Regions from separate parts of the Homo sapiens genome. Here all the other regions are linked to region 1. Evidence: fine-mapped expression QTL. A gene starts in region 1. Each other region holds a variant in brackets. All regions are shown on one strand. Distances are from middle to middle.

Evidence for each region. PIP is the estimated chance that this variant, and not a neighbour inherited with it, causes the effect. A credible set is the group of variants that fine-mapping cannot tell apart.
Region 2: its variant is the best candidate, but not a certain one, in a credible set for the expression of RELL1 in sun-exposed skin (GTEx, PIP 0.77).
Region 3: its variant is the best candidate, but not a certain one, in a credible set for the expression of RELL1 in whole blood (TOPMed, PIP 0.79).

The regions. Positions count from the first base shown.
Region 1 is chr4:37,683,131-37,689,182 of GRCh38, forward strand. RELL1 (RELT like 1) reads right to left here and starts at 3,246. Exons shown (of 7, transcript NM_001085400.2): 1 at 3,070-3,246. The coding sequence starts at 3,157. RefSeq lists silencers at 2,785-3,454, 3,635-3,944.
Region 2 is chr4:37,712,645-37,718,696 of GRCh38, forward strand. LOC105374404 (a long non-coding RNA gene) reads right to left here and starts at 2,442. Exons shown (of 4, transcript XR_925210.1): 1 at 2,227-2,442. The variant A/T (reference allele first, on the strand shown) is at 2,449.
Region 3 is chr4:37,755,311-37,761,362 of GRCh38, forward strand. LOC105374406 (a long non-coding RNA gene) reads left to right here and starts at 5,737. Exons shown (of 3, transcript XR_001741505.2): 1 at 5,737-5,961. The variant G/A (reference allele first, on the strand shown) is at 3,012.

The sequences.
Region 1 (6,052 bases):
TGATAACCACATGCTTACAATTTTATGACGTTCTAAACTATCTTAGAATCTCAGCGAGATTGCAGAGGTTGACTCATATTCTATTTTTCCTCTGCAGAGCAGTGGGGTACAGTGGAAAGGGAATGAACTTTGGAATCAAGCAGGCTGGGTTATCCCAGATAAAGATACATATAAAGGTACACACATACACAGACACCTCCTAGTGGTTCTGCTTCTCTGAATGCTGACTGGCACAGTACCTATGTGATGTTCAGCCAGTTGTTTAACCTCTCTTGCCTCAGTTGCCTTACTGGAAGTAAGTATTTCACAGGGTTATGAGCAATGAGTTTAAAAATGCCTATGAAGGCTGGGCGCGGTGGCTCACACCTGTAATCCCTGCACTTTGGGAGGTCGAGAAGGGCGGATCACTTGAGGTCAGGAGTTACAAACCAGCATAGCCAACATGGGGAAGCCCCGATTCTACTAAAAAATACAAAAATTTGCCAGGCATGGTGGCGGGCGCCTATAATCCCAGCTACTAGGGAGGCTGAGGCAGGAGAATTGCTTGAGCCTGGGAGGTGGAGGTTGTAGTGAGCTGAGATCGCACCACTGCACCTCAGCCTGGGAGTCAGAGCAAGACTCTGTCTCAAAAAACAATAAAAATAAAAATAAATAAACAAATAAAAATGCGGCCGGGCGCGGTGGCTCACGCCTGTAATCCCAGCACTTTGGGAGGCCAAGGTGGGCGGATCACGAGGTCAGGAGATGGAGACCATCCTGGCTAACACGGTGAAACCCCGTCTCTACTAAAAATATAAAAAATTAGCCAGGCATGGTGGCGGGCGCCTGTAGTCCCAGCTACTCTGGAGGCTGAGGCAGGAGAATGGCGTGAACCCGGGAGGCGGAGCTTGCAGTGAGATCGCGCCACTGCACTCCAGCCTGGGCGACAGAGCAAGACTCCGTCTCAAAAAGAAAAAAATAAATAAAAATAAAAATGCATACAAAGTACTCAACCCAAAGCCTGGCACACAGCAGGCACTCAACAGTATTTCCCATTCCTTTCCCTCTACTTCCCTATGCTCAAGGTACAAACATTAACACCATCTTTGGTTGCAAGGGGATCAGATGTTGGCTGGTCAGAGCATCTTCTCTTTACACACGCCTCAAGATACTGGCAAATTTGTGCTCTGTATCCTTTCCTTTTTAGACACCTGTTTCTTCTTCCGCATTAATTTTCATCAAAAAAAAAAAAAGGCTGTCATGCAATTAGATGAGAGCTTTCATCAGTCACATTCTAGTCCTGAGACCTGGGTGTTGCTCAGAGGTCAAACCAAACACACACCCACTCTAGGGATGGATTTCTCCTGCTGATGATGGCTAATTACATGCATCATGTGCTGAATTTTTAATAATTTTACTCCCAGATTAAACTCTTCCCCAGATTCTGTTGCAACTGACTCTAACCCTCTAATGAATGTCTCCAACCTCACATCCAAGTGGAACCTGATTATGCACCTATGTGTCCCAGCAATCAAACGCAGGATGAAAATCAAAATGAACCAGCAGGGCATGGTGGCTCATGCCTGTAATACCAGCACTTTGGGAGGCCGAGGCAGGAGGATCACTTGAGGTCGGGAGTTCGAGACCAGCCTGGCCAATATGGCAAAACCCCATCTCTACTAAAAATACAAAAATTAGCCGGGCATGGTGGCACATGCCTGTAATCCCAGCTGCTCAGAAGGCTGAGGCAGGAGAATCACTTGAACCAGAGAGCTGGAGGTTGCAGTGAGCCGAGGTTGTGCCACTGCACTCCAGTCTGGGTGACAAAATGAGCCCCTGTATCAAAATAAGGAAAAGAAAAAAAAAATTGTCCCATCCAGTAAAACATGTCACTAGCTGCCATTTCCCCAGGTGGATGGCTAACGGAAATACGGGCCTGCTAAAAAGACTCAGGAGACAATATTATCCATCTCCTTCCCTTCCAACCTGCTCTGGTTTCTATGAAAAAGTGAAGGCCAAACTGCTAAGTCAGTGTAAAAGTTGTAAGCGACTGAAATGTTCTCAGGAGGAAGAGTTTATGGATGTTTATGGAGGAGACAGTCACTGTTGAAAGGCTTCCAGTTGCTTATTATTTGGGCCTGAGGAGGAACCACCGCTGAAATCAAGCTTGGAAGAGCTTGCTGACGTCAGATTCCCAGCTGTAGTAACCCCAAATGGCCAAGTAAGTATGTTTTTTTTTTAACTGCAGCTGTTAGGTGGCAATTAAGAGGGGAAGCGGTGGTAAGGAATCCCTAGTGTCTGTAATTATAAAAGCAAGGATGTGACATAGGACTTCCATAAAACTTACACCTCCTCTTAAGATTGATTTCAATTAAAAACTGCTTCATCGTTGGTGACACTTTAGCATCTCTGTTGGTGGCTTCCTGCCCTGACCACACAAGGTTCCTTTCGTGACGACAGGAATCAACAAAAAGAAGAAAAAAATGTAAGTTTACCAACGCGCCTTCCCTTTTTCCGAGCCTGATTTATACAGGATATATGGGAAGAAATGTGGACTCCTTGACCTGTTACAAGAATCCATCAACCACCCAAATAAATGGAAACGTGGAAAGAGATTCAAAGTCCTCCAGGTTTTAGGATATTTTAAGGTATTTAAAAGGGAGAAGGAGGCGCCGACAGCGCACCCGGTGCTCTGTGTCACGATCTTCCGCTCGCGGCGCCTTTGAGGACAAGGGCGGCGGGAAACGGGTCCGCGGGGTTCCGAGGCGAGCGGCCGTGGAGGAAGCGCCCCCGAAGAAGGCCTGGTCCCTACGCCCCGCACTGCCCAGCGCTGGGGAACACAGATCCTCGGAGGAGGCCCCAGGGAGGGAAGGCGGGAGCGGGGCCCGCGGGAGGGGAGGGACGGGAGCCGTTGCCACGCACCGCGCCCTGCCCGGACCGCCGCGGGACAGCCAGTTGTTCAGTGCCGGGATCCCGCGGCTGTGCCAGAAAGCAGGACGCCGCGGGGCTGCCGTCCCGACCCCTCGCTTCCTTCCGCGCTCCCGGGACCGGGCTCAGCACCCGGCGCCCCGGCTACGACCGGACACTCACCCGGAGCCACCAGCGGCGAACTCACGGCGCCTCCCACGAAGACAGCAGCGGCTAGGACGGCGGACCCCGGGAGTGCCCGCGGAGCCATCGCCGCGTCGCTTCGCCCTCCTCCCCCAGGGCGCCGCGTCCCGCGCTCGGGAAGGCAGAGCCGCTCCGGAGCCGGCGGGCTGATCGAGTGGCTGGGCTGGGCCCCAGGGAGCGGCGAACCCCGCCCCGCCATTGCCCCGCCCCACGCCACACCCACCTCGGCTCGGTCCCGCCTCTCCCCGCGCGCCCCGGGCTCCACCTAAGCCGGCACGAGGTCCACTCATGGCTCCGCCCCCGACTCCCCGCCCACCTCAGCCTGATCCCGCCTCTCCCTGCCATTCCCGCTTCCTTTCCAAACCCCGCAGCAGCCTCAGCGGCGTAGCTAGGCCATGGACACGCCCTCTTTCTCCACCCACCTCAGCTTGGCCCCGCCTCTCCCTACCGAGCCCCGGACTCCACCTAAGAAGGCACGTGGCCCATCCATGGCCCCGCCCTTTTCCCCACCCACAGCTCAGCCCGACCCCTCCTCTCCCGCTTCCTTTCCAAACCCAGCAGCAGCCTTGGCGGCGCAGTTAGGCTATAGCCCCGCCCTTGCGCCCTGCCCACCGTGGCCCGGCCGTGCCTCTACTTGCCAGGCCCGCTTCCTTTCCAAGCCGGGCCGGGATTACGCGGGAGCCCGGGGCGGGGGGAGGGTCGCCCGGGTGCAACCTCCCTCGGTCGCTGGGACTAGGCGGGCGTGGGAAGAGAAAGAGGGAGCGCGCCCCGAGAAGCACTGGACAGTCAGAAGCGGCCAGCACTGGAGTGAGCACAGGCTTTTTTCGCTGTTGGCATGTCTATCCACTAGCATTCCCCTCGGTTGCAGATCTAGGGAGTGATGCTGTGCTGGATGTCACGTTCTGTTGTTTGGAAATTAGCAGAAAAGATAACTTAAATTTCTTCCTCTGTTTGTTTGCATTTAAGCTGCTCCTATTGGGGAAAATACCTCTATGCATTTTCAGGAACAACTTGCCTTTTTTTTTTAATCGTGTGCTTGTATTGCACCTTGCGCATACTCCCGCAAAGTAGGTCTTTCAATGCCCAGACGCTTATTATCTCCTCACATCCTCACATCAGCTCTGCGAGGTGACTATTAGAGGCCAGGGAGTAAACCCACGATGTCTGGGCCACCATGATAAATTGTAATTATCTCATTGTCATTGTGTTTGCTCGCTGCTGTGCCCTCAGCGCCTGGATGGAGGACAGACAGCACACGCTAAGAGGTCAGAAGTGTTTTCTGAAGTTGAATCATCTTCACAAGCATTAATAGGACTCAGAGGCTCTCTCTGAATAGTTCCTTTTTACTGCCCTGTAGAGACTGTTGTTACTGGGCCATCAAGCATTTGCTTGAAGGAAATTAGGGCAGGACTTGAGCAAATACTCAACACCAGCAAGAAGAGGGGGTGCATGGAGGCTGTGGGTTTTCACAGGATGGGTCTCATCCTTGAGGTGACTGATAACCTCTAGTTTTCAGAGGACTATTTATTCTCTCACCGAGTCCTCCACGCAGTCTGCTGGACTATTATTACAAACATTGCATTGATGTGGGAATTGCCAGTGACAGAAGCTCAGGCCACTACAGTACAGATGGCTGAGGCTGAAGGATGGAGCCCCTGCCCTTTGAAGCCCAAGGAGGGCACTGCGCGTCCTGCGCTCAGTTGGCAGCGCATCCTACAGTCTGGCAGTCTTAGCAGGCAGCCTTTGCTAGTTTTATATCAACATAAACATTGAGAATGTGTGCGGAGGAAAGCGATCCATGTGGATTTCTAACTAAAACAGGAGAGAATCCCGGACCTAGAAATTAAACTATAAATTAGAAGTTGTAGCCAGAACCAGCTATAAAATTTGCAGGGCACAATGCAAAATGAAAAGGCAGGGCCTTCTGTTCAAAAATCGTTAAGAATTTCAAGATGGCAACAACACAACATTAAATCGATTGTGGAGCCCTCCTAAACACACAGTTGCACAGGTCACACACTTATAAAGCCAGCTCTGGTTTTGTAAGTTAGAATGTAACAAAATGCTTGAATCAAGAAATCTAATCAAAATGTAAAATGTCATTTCAAAATTGAATCATGTTTCACTCTTTTCCCACAGATTGGACTTAGTATTAAAAAGATGGGATCGTTTTTGGCTGGGCGCAGTAGCTCAAGCCTGTAATCCCAGCACTTTGGGAGGCCGAAGCAGGCAGATCACGAGGTCAGGAGATCGTAGACCATCCTGGCTAACACGGTGAAACCCCATCTGTACTAAAAATACAAAAAAGTAGCCAGGCGTGGTGGCGGGCGCCTGTAGTCCCAGCTACTCGGGAGGCTGAGGCAGGAGAATGGCGTGAACCCGGGAGGCGGAACTTGCAGTGAGCCGAGATTGTGCCACTGCACTGCAGCCTGGGCAACAGAGCGAGACTCCGTCTCAAAAGAAAAAAAGAAAAAAAAAAAAGAAAGACGGGATCATTTTTAACAACACATTTGAATTGTATATCTGTTATGGCTCTTCAAATATAAAAATCTAGTACTTAAGCCTTACCCATTATCTACCAGGCCCTTTGTTTTACAGATGAGAGATGGTTAAGTGATCTGCCTGACATATCTACTATGAGCCAGGGTTGAAACCCAGGGCTCTGAAATTTCTCTTCCTAAACTTTCCATAACACCTGCTTGACACACTCTCTATAAATGTCTTACTTTCACGTACCCCGTATACATGCATTTGTATGTCTTGTTAAAGGAATGAAGGAAGGGTAGGAGGAAGAGAGGGGGAGGGACGGAGGAAAGTGAAGAAGGGAAGGAGAGAGGAAAGAAAGAAAATCAAGCTTAAATTATTTTCCATATCCTTAACCCTACAGATTTATTCATACAATTTAAATAGCTTCTACATATGTATATCTAAAAATCCACTGTTTTATTTTAAAAGTAAGAAC
Region 2 (6,052 bases), 30 kb after region 1:
CACAGCCCCAGGATGTGCAGAAAACATGTACCCAAGGTGGTCTGGCTACAGTGTGGTTTTATACATTTTTTAGGGAGACATAAAATTAATCGACACATATAAGATGTGCATTGGTTCAGGCCAGAAAGGTGGGACAGCTTGAATTGGTGGCAGATTAGGGGGTGGGGGAATCCAGGTCATAAGTGGATTCAAAGATTTTTCTGATTGGCATTTGGTTGAAAGAGTTATTATCTAAAGACCTGGACTCAATAGAAAGAAGTTTCTGGGTTAAGATAAGGAGTTGTGGAGACCAAGGTTTTATCATACAGATGAAGCCTCCAGGTAGCACGCTTCAGAGCTCTCATCAGACCTAAAAGCTGCCAGAATCCCCTTCCCTTTCCAGGTATTTTCCCTGATTCAGGAGAGAAGTAGTGTGAAATAGTATCTTTCAAACATTTAAATCTATAGATATAGATACAGTTATAGGGCCGGGAGTAGTGGCTCACCCCTGTAATCCCAGCACTTTGGGAAGCCGAGGCGGGGGGATCACCAGGTCAGGAGATCGAGACCAGCCTGGCTAACACGGTGAAACCCTGTCTCTACTAAAAATACAAAAAAATTAGCTGGGCATGGTGGCGGGCGCCTGTAGTCCCAGCTACTCGGGAGGCTGAGGCAGGAGAATGGCGTGAACCTGGGAGGCGGAGCTTGCAGTGAGCTGAGATCATGCCACTGCACTCCAGCCCAGGCGACAGAGCGAGACTCTGTCTCAAAAAAAAAAAAAAAAAAAAGATACAGTTATATATTTTCCCTATAAGAGACAGCTTTGCAGGACCATTTCAAAATATGTCAAATAAATATATTTTGGGGGAAAATATTTCTTTCAGAGCCTGCTATCTGTCATGCGATGCTCTACTAGAGTCAGGTTGGAATTTGGTGGCTTATTGCTACAAAGGTCTGTTTTGTAGTCTTAAGACCTCTGTTTCAACGTTAATTCTGGTGGTCAGTTGTGCTTGAATTCCAAAGGGAGGTGAGTATAATGGGGCATGTCTAACTCCCCTTCCTACCATGACCTCAACTCATTTTTCAGGTTTACTTTGGAATGCCCTTGGCCAAGAGAGGAGTCCATTAGTTGATTGGGGGGCTTAAAATTTTATATTTGGTTCTCATATCTTGCTAATAGCTTTCGTACATATTACCTAGTCTAATGACACACATTGTCTTTGATAAACATACATCTTTATCAGACTTCTTTATTAAGAAGCTCAGTTTAATAAATTACATCAAATGGGTTGCCAGTGTACCATTTAAAAATTACTCTTTTGTTAAAATTCATTCATTAATATATTTTAAATATGTGCTGGCCTTCTTTTCTGGTAACTGGGCTATCATAGCTATGAAGAAGATGAACGCGTTTCTTGCTGTCTTGGAGCTGACAGTCAAACTGATTAAATAATTCTGGCAACATTTCTTCATGATTGGGAAAAATTAAATTAAGTGCTATGAAACATTTGGTTAGCTGTGTAAGCTGAGGCAACCCAGACAGAACAGCCTGTATCAGAAGACACCAGCTTACCAACCTGACCTGTCCCAATGCCAAGCACAAGAATTGGTAGGACATTTGTTCAGTCCGTTCAGTTCAGGTATTAGCTGGCAGGAACAACACCTGGACTACCTAATTAGGACTAAACACATAATATGGAATAAGAATTACATATCGTTTACTAAGCCCTAATTTAAGTAGACACAGAGACAGCTGGCTTAATGGGGGAGGTTATCCCAAGAAATGCCAATAGGGGAGTAGGGAAGTGACATAGGAAACCAATAAATGACTATTTCCAAGCAAGTTGCCACTAGGTCTAACTAGAGATGAATCCTGCAGGGACCTATGGGGGACAGTGAAGAGCACATCTGAGTTTCCTGGTGAGAGGCAAGGGAGCTAGAATACATATCTGCCACCTCCTACCAGCCATTGGTTGGAGGCTACTGGACAATGGGTATGTGCTGTGTTAGAGAGGTGGTGGGGCAGTGATGGTTGCAGTGAATTCTCTAGCACCTTTGCATGTCCAAGAAAGCCCTAGGGCTTAGGCAAAAGGGTTGCAAATTCTGGCAGTTGCAAGTCTGGCAGGAAATAAGTGCTCAGAGGGGATATTAATGGAACTACCTATATATCCGCCATAACTACCGTTCTGTCCAGTTCTGATGTTCATTCCAAGTTTTCCATACTAATGAATGGAAAAAATCTTTCACCTGATGTGGTTGAAGGCTTATCTTCATGCCCCTTTAAACAAATGCTTTGGTGTATATCATTTGCTATTCCCTTTTCAGCTTCCATTGCCATTCAGGTTCCAGCTTGTTAGCCTTGCTGTGGTAACACCCTTGTATCCCGGCTTTTAATGTTATTGTGTAGAATTTCTCTCCATCTGAAGTATCTCAACATCTTCACTGACTGAATGCCTAAGGAGGATTGTT[A/T]TCCTCCAATGAAAAACAATCCTTGTGAAATGCTTGCACAACTACCACTTTTCCCACAATCACTTTACTGGATTTGCTCTTGCAGTGTCAGCAGGAGGAAATTTATTACACCTACCCTGATTTGGGGCGGGGAAAGAGCATCTTTTGGATTGGAAGAAATTTGGAACTGGCTTTTCTCTCTTTGCAGAAGTGATTGGTTCTCCAACCCTTCCTCTCGGACACTAAGAACCATCCATCCTCCCCAGCTCTAGAACCTGAGGGTTTTTTTCCTATTTAACTCTTTCAGCCGTGAGTAAGCCATCTCTAGGCTTACTTTTTAATATCAGTTTTAGCATTTAATCCTATTTTAGCATTTAATCCTATATTTTCTGGAGAGATGGTATAACATAAGATTCCAACGGTAGGCTCTGGCATCCAATTCCACTGGTGGAAATTCTGGATCCCCACATCTCTGTGGCCTTCATTTTCCATATCCATGGAATATGGGAAATTATCATATCTAGCACATGGAGCTGCCATGAGAATTGAATGGGCTAATACTGTATAGCCCTTAGAAAAGTGCCTGGCACATAGCCCTCAATAACTATGAGCCACTTTTCAATTTGGCCTTGATTAGAACTGATACTTTCTTTTGATGTCAGGAACTTTTCAAGTTTGCCATTTAGCAACTAGAGAGTAAATACAATAATTGTATTGTCACTTTAAGTAAATCAAGAAGCCAGAATAACTTATTTGCCTCATTATATGTCATAAATAATTCAGGACTGAAATTTTTCTTAACTGCCAAAAGGCAGTCAAATTGTAAAACCCCATCCTACTTCTCACCTCTTATCTATATGAACAAAAAAAACTGTGAAATGAACCAGCACAGTCCTGAGTTGCGTCTTCCCTTTCCTAATGAGTCATTTAACTTAAATTACCTAGTTGTTCTTGTGAGGAAAGGAACAGCTGCAAAAAGTTGGCAGGTTTCCAAATGCCTGGCAATGCAATTTAGATAAAAATATAGGTGTTTATGGATGATGACATTATTTGGACCACAAAGTTTTCCTAATCTATGCCCTGGCTAGCAAATGGCTCTGTTCTCCACGCTGTCTGCTGACCTGACTCCTGGCGGGGCTGTGATGTTTTTAGCAAGGTGAAAGAAGCATTATTACAGTCATGCCCTTGGAGTTGACTTCTGCCCATTGACTCATTTTATCCTCACAACAACCTGGTGGAGTACTGGAACAGGTAGTTTTACAGTCACGCTAATGGTTATGCTTAAAACTGTGTAGCTATTTATACTCAATACTAAAAATGGAACCCACTTTTAGGGCCATTTAGACTATAACCATGAGTTCCCTTTTTCTTATCCTATGTTTCTGTGTGGAGACCAAAAAACAATAACAACAACAACGACAGCAACATTACAAAACAAAAACCCTTTGAGTTTGTACCTAGTTTAAGTCATCTGTATCTCAGAAGCTGCCTTCTCTTTTATGGCTTCTTACAAGGTCATCTAGAAACTTGAAAGAGTTTGTTTTTCATCAGGTATTTGTTCCAGAGGAGTGGAAAGAAAATATAGACAGACAAACAGGCTTTCAGAGGGAAACTCAGCTCTGAGATGGTCCCAGGGATGCCAGGCCTCACAGGAATAGGTCCAACAGGAATTGGGGTTCACTCTAAGGTTAAAAAACCAAGGGAGTCAGGGTGCAGTAAGAGGCAAAAACACAGACCTTGGAGTCAGGCCTTGATCAAGTGTTTAATTTCTCTGTGCTTCAATTTCCTCTTCTAGCAAAACTGAGACCTATAATACCAAGAGTACCTACCTTACAGGATGATGAGGATTAGGTATGATAATGTAACTTTAAGGTAGGCACAGCTTTCTTAAACAGCAAACACAAAGAACTAACTGCAAAAGAAAAGATTAATAATTTGAACTTCATTAAAATTAAGAACTTTATTAACTATAAAATGTAATTAGCTGTGTGAAAAGAAAGCCTGACGTATTATATTTTCCAAAGATGGTTGTGACAATATTTCCTATCCATGTACTCATTCAAAACCTTGCCACTGCCTGATTTGAAAAAGGTGCAGTTTGGCCGGGTGCTGTGGCTCACGCCTGAAATCCCAGCACTTTAGGAGGCCAAGGCGGGTGGATCACAAGGTCAGGAGATCGACACCATCCTGGCTAAGACAGTGAAACCCCGTCTCTACTAAAAATACAAAAAATTAGCCGGCTGTGGTGGCGGGCTTCTGTAGTCCCAGCTACTCAGGAGGCTGAGGCAGGAGAATGGCGGGAACCCGGGAGGCGGAGCTTGCAGTGAGCCAAGATGGTGCCACTGCACTCCAGCCTGGGCGACAGAGCGAGACTCCGTCTCAGAAAAAAAAAAAAAAAAAAAAGAAAAAGAGAAAAAAAGAAAGAAAGAAAAAGGTGCAGTTTATGTTCCTCCCTTGAACCTAGATGGATCTCTGTGACTATTTTGACTAATGAAGTGTGGCAGACAAGATTCTATGTGACTTCTGGGGCTAGATAATAAAAGATCATAGTTTTACCTCTCTTGGGACATTCACCCTGGAAACAAACCACAATAATGTGAGGAAATATAAGCCATATGGAGAAGCCCATGTGCATAGGAATGGCAACCTCCATCGCTCTACCCAGCTGACAGTGAGCTCCAACTTTCCAGCCATGTAAGCGAGTCATCTTGGAAGCAACTGTTTCTGCCCGTAGTTGAGTCACCCCTGCTGATGCCATATGGGAGAGAAAAAAGCCTTCTCTGTTAAGCCTTACTCAAAATGCATATAAGCAAAATATATGAATGTTATTATTCTAAACTACCACATGGGGAGGGGGATAGTGTGTTATTCAGCAATGAAGAACCAGGAAGTCTGGCACGTAGAAGCGGGGTGTGCCATAACAAGACCTAAAATATGTGACAGTGGCTTAGGGATGTGGAGTTAGGCGGAAGCTGAATGAGCCTAGGAACTGTTATAGAAGTCTAAAGGGTCTTGAGTATGCTGTTGGCAAAAGCTTGTAAGAAGTGAGGAAAATGTTTGGGACAGCTGGAGGACAGGAGTCTGTTATTATGCAGTGATGCAAAGTTTAGTAACACTCTCACCTGTGGTTCCACTGAAAATAGAAAATAATGAACTAGGTAATATAGCTAAGGGCATTTCCAGGCAGTGTTGTAGGTACTACGTGGCTTCTTCTCACTGTATATAGTAAAACAGGTGAGGAGAAAAGAAACTATATAAAGAAAAGGATAAACTCTTAAGTATAACGGAGCTGGGACTTGTTGGGCTCAAAAATAAAATCGCTCCTCATTTCCAGCCTCTCCAGATGGCAAACAGTGCTAAAATTAAGAAATGGCTTCAGGCAGAGATCAAATCCAGGGCATGATAATGAAAATAGTCTTAAGATGAAACTGAGGGTGGCCAGTAAAATCCTTTGTTAAGACCTCATAGTAGTTTTTCACAGTAGTCTTTGCCTTTCAAACTAAGAAATAGCCCTCTAAAGATCTTAAGACTGTGTTTCTTAGATCCTCTCTATTAAGAAATGAGGATTCTCAGAATCTTAGTTTCCCTATAAAGAGTTCAGTTTTATAGGGAGCCTAGGCATTAT
Region 3 (6,052 bases), 72 kb after region 1:
CATGCCTGTAATCCCAACACTTTGAGAGGCCGAGGCGGATCGATCATTTGAGGTCAGAAGTTTGAAACCAGCCTTACCAACATGGTGAAACCCCGTGTCTACTAAAAATTCAAAAATTAGCTGGGCGGTAGTGGCGTGGGTGTGTAATCCCAGCTACTTGGGAGGCTGAGGCAGGAGAATCATTTGAGCCCAGGAGGCAGAGGCTGCAGTGAGCCGAGATCGCACCACTATACTCTAGCCTGAGCGACAGACCGAGACTCAGTCTCAAAAAAAATCAGAAAACAAAAAAGCTGTGATGACTTTATAAAAACCTTTAGAACTCATAATTTAGCTCTCTAACTCTCTTTGCTGTCACAAGTTTTAGTTTTCAATAACTCATTCTAAACATTTTTTCCAAAAGACAGCCAAGGCTATGGGAACAGGAATTTTCTTAAAAGAAAAAGAAAAAAACGGAAGCACCTTTCTTTTGGAGGCTAAAATGTCTCACATCTCAGCTTCTCTCAGTTCTCCAGAAATCTTCTTCCTCTGTGCTCTGGTGGTTCTTGCTCCTTTCAGATTCTGACTTGTATATGGCATTGAATTACCATGTTGCCAATTCCAGCTCTAATTCTTTTTTTTTTTTTTTTTTTTTTTGAGTTAGAGTCTTGCTCTGTCACCCAGGCTGGAGTGCAGTGGCGTGATCTCAGCTCACTGCAACCTCCACCTCCCGGGGTCAAGTGTTTCTCCTGCCTCAGTCCCCAGAGTAGCTGGGACTACAAGTGTATGCCACTCACACCCGGCTAATTTTTTTATTTTTAGTGGAGACAGGGTTTCGCCATGTTGGCCAGGCTGATCTCGAACTCCTGAACTCAAATGATACGCCCGCTTTGGCCTTTCAAGTGCTGGAATTACAGGTGTGAGCCACCACGCCCAGCCTCCAGTTCTAATTCTTAGATTGGTGCAAAAGTAATTGCGGTTTTTGCCATTAAAGGTTTTTGCAGCAAAACCAGTTAGGTAAGAGGTATGGATAATTGTAGTTAGTTATTGCTGCACTCTAGAGCCAATCTTTACCTCAAGTTCTTAAGAAAAATTCTAAAGAAGTGCTCACAAGCCAGTTCATGGTCTCGCCAGGGGTCAGGGGCTACCCGTGGTCCAGTTGACTGTGACTATTCAGAAGATCAAGTCACATACAAGGGTGCCTAAGCCTGTCACTTCAACAGACAGCAGGGAAGGAATCTGTTAGACAAATAATAAAAGAAATACCAATAATAAAAGAAATAAAAGCAATAGGTATCATTTAGCTGTTTTCACGCTAATAAAACGTTAATAAGATTCTCATGTATTTGTAAGATATCAATTGACATAAACCTGCAATTACATTTTGTGTCCTGATCAGAGGGAAAAGGTATGAGGGTGTGAGAGGCAAAATAATGGCCTCCCAAAGATGGCCACCTCTCAATGTCCAGAACCTGTGAATATGTCACCTTACATGGTGATATGGTTTGGTTATGTGTTCCCACCCAAATCTCATCTCGAATTGTAATCCCTGTAATCCCCAAGTGTCTAGGGAGATACGTGGTGGGAGGTGATTGGATCATGGGGGCGGTTTTTGACTGCTGTTCTTGGGATAGTGAGTGAGTTCTCACGAGATCTGAGGGTTCCATAAGGCAGTTTTCCCTACTCTTGCTTGCTTTCTCTCTCACCTGCCACCATGTAAAATGTGCCTCCCTTCCCTTCTGCCATGATTATGAGTTTCCTGAGGCCTCCCCAGCCATGTGGAACTGTGAGTCAATTAAACCTATTTTCTTTATAAATTACCCAGTCTCGGGTATGTCTTTATAGCAACGTGAGAATGAACTAATACACATGGCAAAGGGGAATGAAGGTTGCAAATCAGCTATTTTACAACAGGAAGTTTCTCTTGGATCGTCTGGAGGGGCCCAGTATAATCCCAAGGGTCCTTCAGTGTGAAAAAGGGAGGCTCAGAGGCGATGTGATGGAATGTGAGATAGGCTACAGGCCATGGTGACTTTGAAGATGGGAGGGGGCCCTAAACCACAGAATGCGGCTGGCCTCCAGAAGCTGGAAAAGGCAGGAACTCAGACCTTCCCCTAGAGCCTCCAGAGAGGGAGGCAGTCCTGCCCACACCTGGATTTTAGCCCAGTGAGACCCATTTTGAATTTTTTTGCCTCCAGAATCGTAAGATAATAAACCTGTGTTGTTTTAAGCCACTAACTTTGCCGTAATTTGTTATGGCAGCAATAGAAAAATAATACAAGGGATAAGATAGGTACAATTATGTGCTGTAAATATATTCTCCTTCAGCCCAGACAACACAACCATAAGTTAGCATTATTATCTCTCTCTTTCTAATAAGGAAATATAGGCTAAAAGATCATATAGGTAGTAAGCAGCAGAACTGTTTGGTTCTTGAATTCTTTCAAGCAAATTGTAAGTGCCTTTTCAGAAGACAGTCTTTGGAGCAGTGGTTCCAAAATGTAGCTGTACATTTAAATCATTTGGCATCTTTAAAATATTCTGATGCCGGGTTTGCATGCCCAGGCATTGCCATTTCATTGGCAGGCGATGCAACCAGGCCATCAGGAATTCAGAAGCTCCCCAAGTGATTCTAATGTGCGGCAAAGTTGAGCAACCAATATTCTGGAGGAAGGTATATAGTGCCTTGATGTTAAACGGAGACATTACAGTTACTTTCCCTGCCTGAAGTGGCTTCTTTTTCTGTGGTTCCCACCTGGGCTGCCCAATTCAATCATCTTGAGGCTTCTAGAACATACTTATACTGGCTTCTCCCTTATAGATTCTGATCCAATGATCTAAATTTGGACCAGGATATAGTTTTAAAGCTCCCCAGATGATTCTAAAATTTAATCAGAGTTGAAACCCCCTATATAAGGAGGACACAATGGAATCCTACCTGTTTTGTAAGTTATTTTGAAAACTCTAGGTATTGGTGGAAAGGAAAGGAGGTTTGCATAGCAAAGCTGAGTGTTTCCAGCTGCCCCTGACAGGAA[G/A]TGTTGACACATATTTGCAGAACTTCTCCATCAGCATTGAGCAAGTTTGTGCTGTTTTTGAAGAACAGCCAAATAGCCAAATGAACACTTGTAACCTAGGATTCATAAGAAATACAAAAAACAAAGTGTGTTGAAGGTATTTTAGCAATAGTGATATGAAGCTGTCTTGAGTTGCCCTTGAGCATGCAAGACGGATAAGGTTGTTGTCCTTAAGGACTCAGCCATTCAGTGAAAAATTGCTGCAGACAAGGATATGTGGATGGTGCAACATTATCTCCCCCACAGGTTTCTAATTGCAAAGGGAAAAAAAATACCATTTCTGCAAAGAGGGAAAAAATTAAATTTCAATGGAAAGTTTTGTTCTGGCAGTTACCAGCCACATCAATGGACGATTTCAGTCTCAATCTCAACATTATGTTTCTCGAGTTATTTCGGTGGCTTTCCTCAGGGTCATCTGAGGAAATGGGTCACCCTCTGGACACCAGCTAGAGTTACCTTACCCCCTATTGCAAGTGGCTGATACCTTACTTTTGTCAGAAACACAGGTAAAAGACAAAGTAATATGTGTGAACATAGCGTGATCTGATTGAGATTTTAATTGCATACTGTAATTTATGTATCCAAATGTTGTCTTCAAAAGCCTTGGACAACACAGGTTTGGAAGTCTGCCTTTTAGGCTCACCTGGAGAGTCTAATTTACATTCTTCTTTGTAAATTACATTTCTATGTAATTTACATTCCTTTGTGTTTGAAGGGCATATTTGATTTGTGTGAACAGCTAAATATCACTGAGGGTCACATGTGCTAAATAAAGTAATTAAGCAAACACAGGAATGCCCCTTCTGGCCAAACACAAAGTATGATTGTGCATGGCAATATTTATTTTCTAAAATAAACTAGTTCTGATAAAATTACATTTAAAATTCAATTCAAAATGTTTTAGACATGCTAATGATACTTGAAAGACATTATAAGGCCAGTGCTTTGGATGGTCCATTGCTCCCTTGGATGCCTAAGTTTGAATACTAGGCTGGGCACAGTGGCTCATGCCTGTAATCCTAGCATTTTGGGAGGCTGAGACAGATGGATCCCTTGAACCGAGGAGTTCAAGACCAGCCTGGGCAACATGGCAAAACCTCCTCTCTACAAAAGATACAAAAATTAGCCAGGTGTAGTGGTGTGTGTCTGTAGTCCCAGCTACTTGGGGGGCTGGGGTAGGAGGATCACATGAACCCGGGAGGTCGAGGTTGCAGTCAACCGAAATTGCACCACTGCACTCCAGCACGGGTAACAGAGTGAGACCCTGTCTCAAAAAAATAATAATAATAATAAATAAATAAATAATATGTTTGAATCCTGACTGTAATCATTAGCCAAGAAATCTTTATGAAACTCAGTTTTCTAATCTGTAAAATAGGAGTAACATGCCTACCTAAAACAGTTACAAAGTCTAAATAAGTTAATACATGCAAAGCACTTAGAAGAGTGCCTAGCATCTAGTAAGCCTCAATAAATGTTATCCAATCTTGTAAGTATTATTACTACTATTCATCAGACATTCCCTTGAGTAAGATGGTCCTTTCCACTGCCAATGAAAGAAGGCTAATTTGAAATAACTTTACTCAAAAGTGGAAATAAGAGGATCATCTGGCTGGGAAGTCCAAGTGCAGGGACAGCTTCAGGTATGGCTAGATCTAGGATTAAAACAATGGCATTAAGGCCCTCTCTTCTCCATTGCTCAGCTCTGCTTTTTCTCCAGTGGTGGGTAACGCAGCCTCTCTCCACAAGGTGGGCAAATTGTCCACTGGCAGTTAGGTGACACCCTGAGCCTCAAGCACTATTATCCACAATTTCAGAGAAAGAGGCCCTGTCTTCTCCAGCAGACATGCATCATTATTCAAGGGTGACTCCAAGGGGTCTTCTTGGGTCCTTGCCCACGCCTGAGCAAATTGCTGTGCTCAGAGATGGAGTACTAAGATCAGCTAGTGTGGGGCCCAAGGTTACTCCTGAGGCAGAGGTGTAAGAGTTACTCCAGGAGCTCATGGAGTGGGGGAGGAGAACAGTTACCAAAAGGAGTCATGTGGACAAAGACATGTCTGCTCTCTCAGGACTGAACATCCTGCTTCAGTTTGTTCCACATCCATTTATGTATCATTTGTATTTGATCATATGTATCACCTGATAGTTACCATTTTTTGATCAGTTACTGTATGTCAGGAACTACTCTAGGAGCTGTACATAAAAGCTAAATGTAATAATAGCTAAACCTGAATGAATATTTGATACATGCCAGATTCTAAAATATGTATTCTAAACGTATTCTTATTTAATCTCCCCAATAACACCATGAGGTAAACACTATTATCATCCCCAGTTGAGAACACTGAGGTTCAGAGGACTTAGGAACGTGCCCAAAGCCATACCTCTGAGTGACAGAGCCAGAATTTGGACCTAAGGGAATCTGACCACAGGGCCGTTGTTCTTCATGTTCTGACCATTTTACTCTCATAAAAATCCCATGAGGTAATGTCTTATTAAAACCACTGTATTACAGGCAATGAGATAAGACTCAAAGAGGTTAAGCAAATTACTCAAGGTCATGTTCAGGCACTATGCTATGCAATTGTGAGCCAGAGATGGAGACATAGCCCCTGACAAGGCTGTTGTGTGTGGTTGCCCAGCTTGAGCACTGCACAAAATTGCCTCATCCATTGCAGAGGGCAAAGGAGGATGAGGCTTGAAATTTAGCCCAAGTTCTGCTCATAAACCTTGGCCCTGACCCTGGCTACATTGCACAAATTCTACAAGCCAAGATGTGTCTATGAAGCTGACGCTAACCAGAGGCGGAAGAGCATTACAAATTGAGTGAAGCTCCTAGTTGGGTTAACGGCAGCCCTGGCCCCAGGATCTCAAAAGCAGCCTGAAAAGCAGATGATGACAATGGAACATGGTAAGTACTGAGCAAGAGACTTCCCCAGAGAGCTAAGTGACCCAGGACAGGGGCATGTGGCTGCTCACCCTGCCACATCCAGACTTAAACA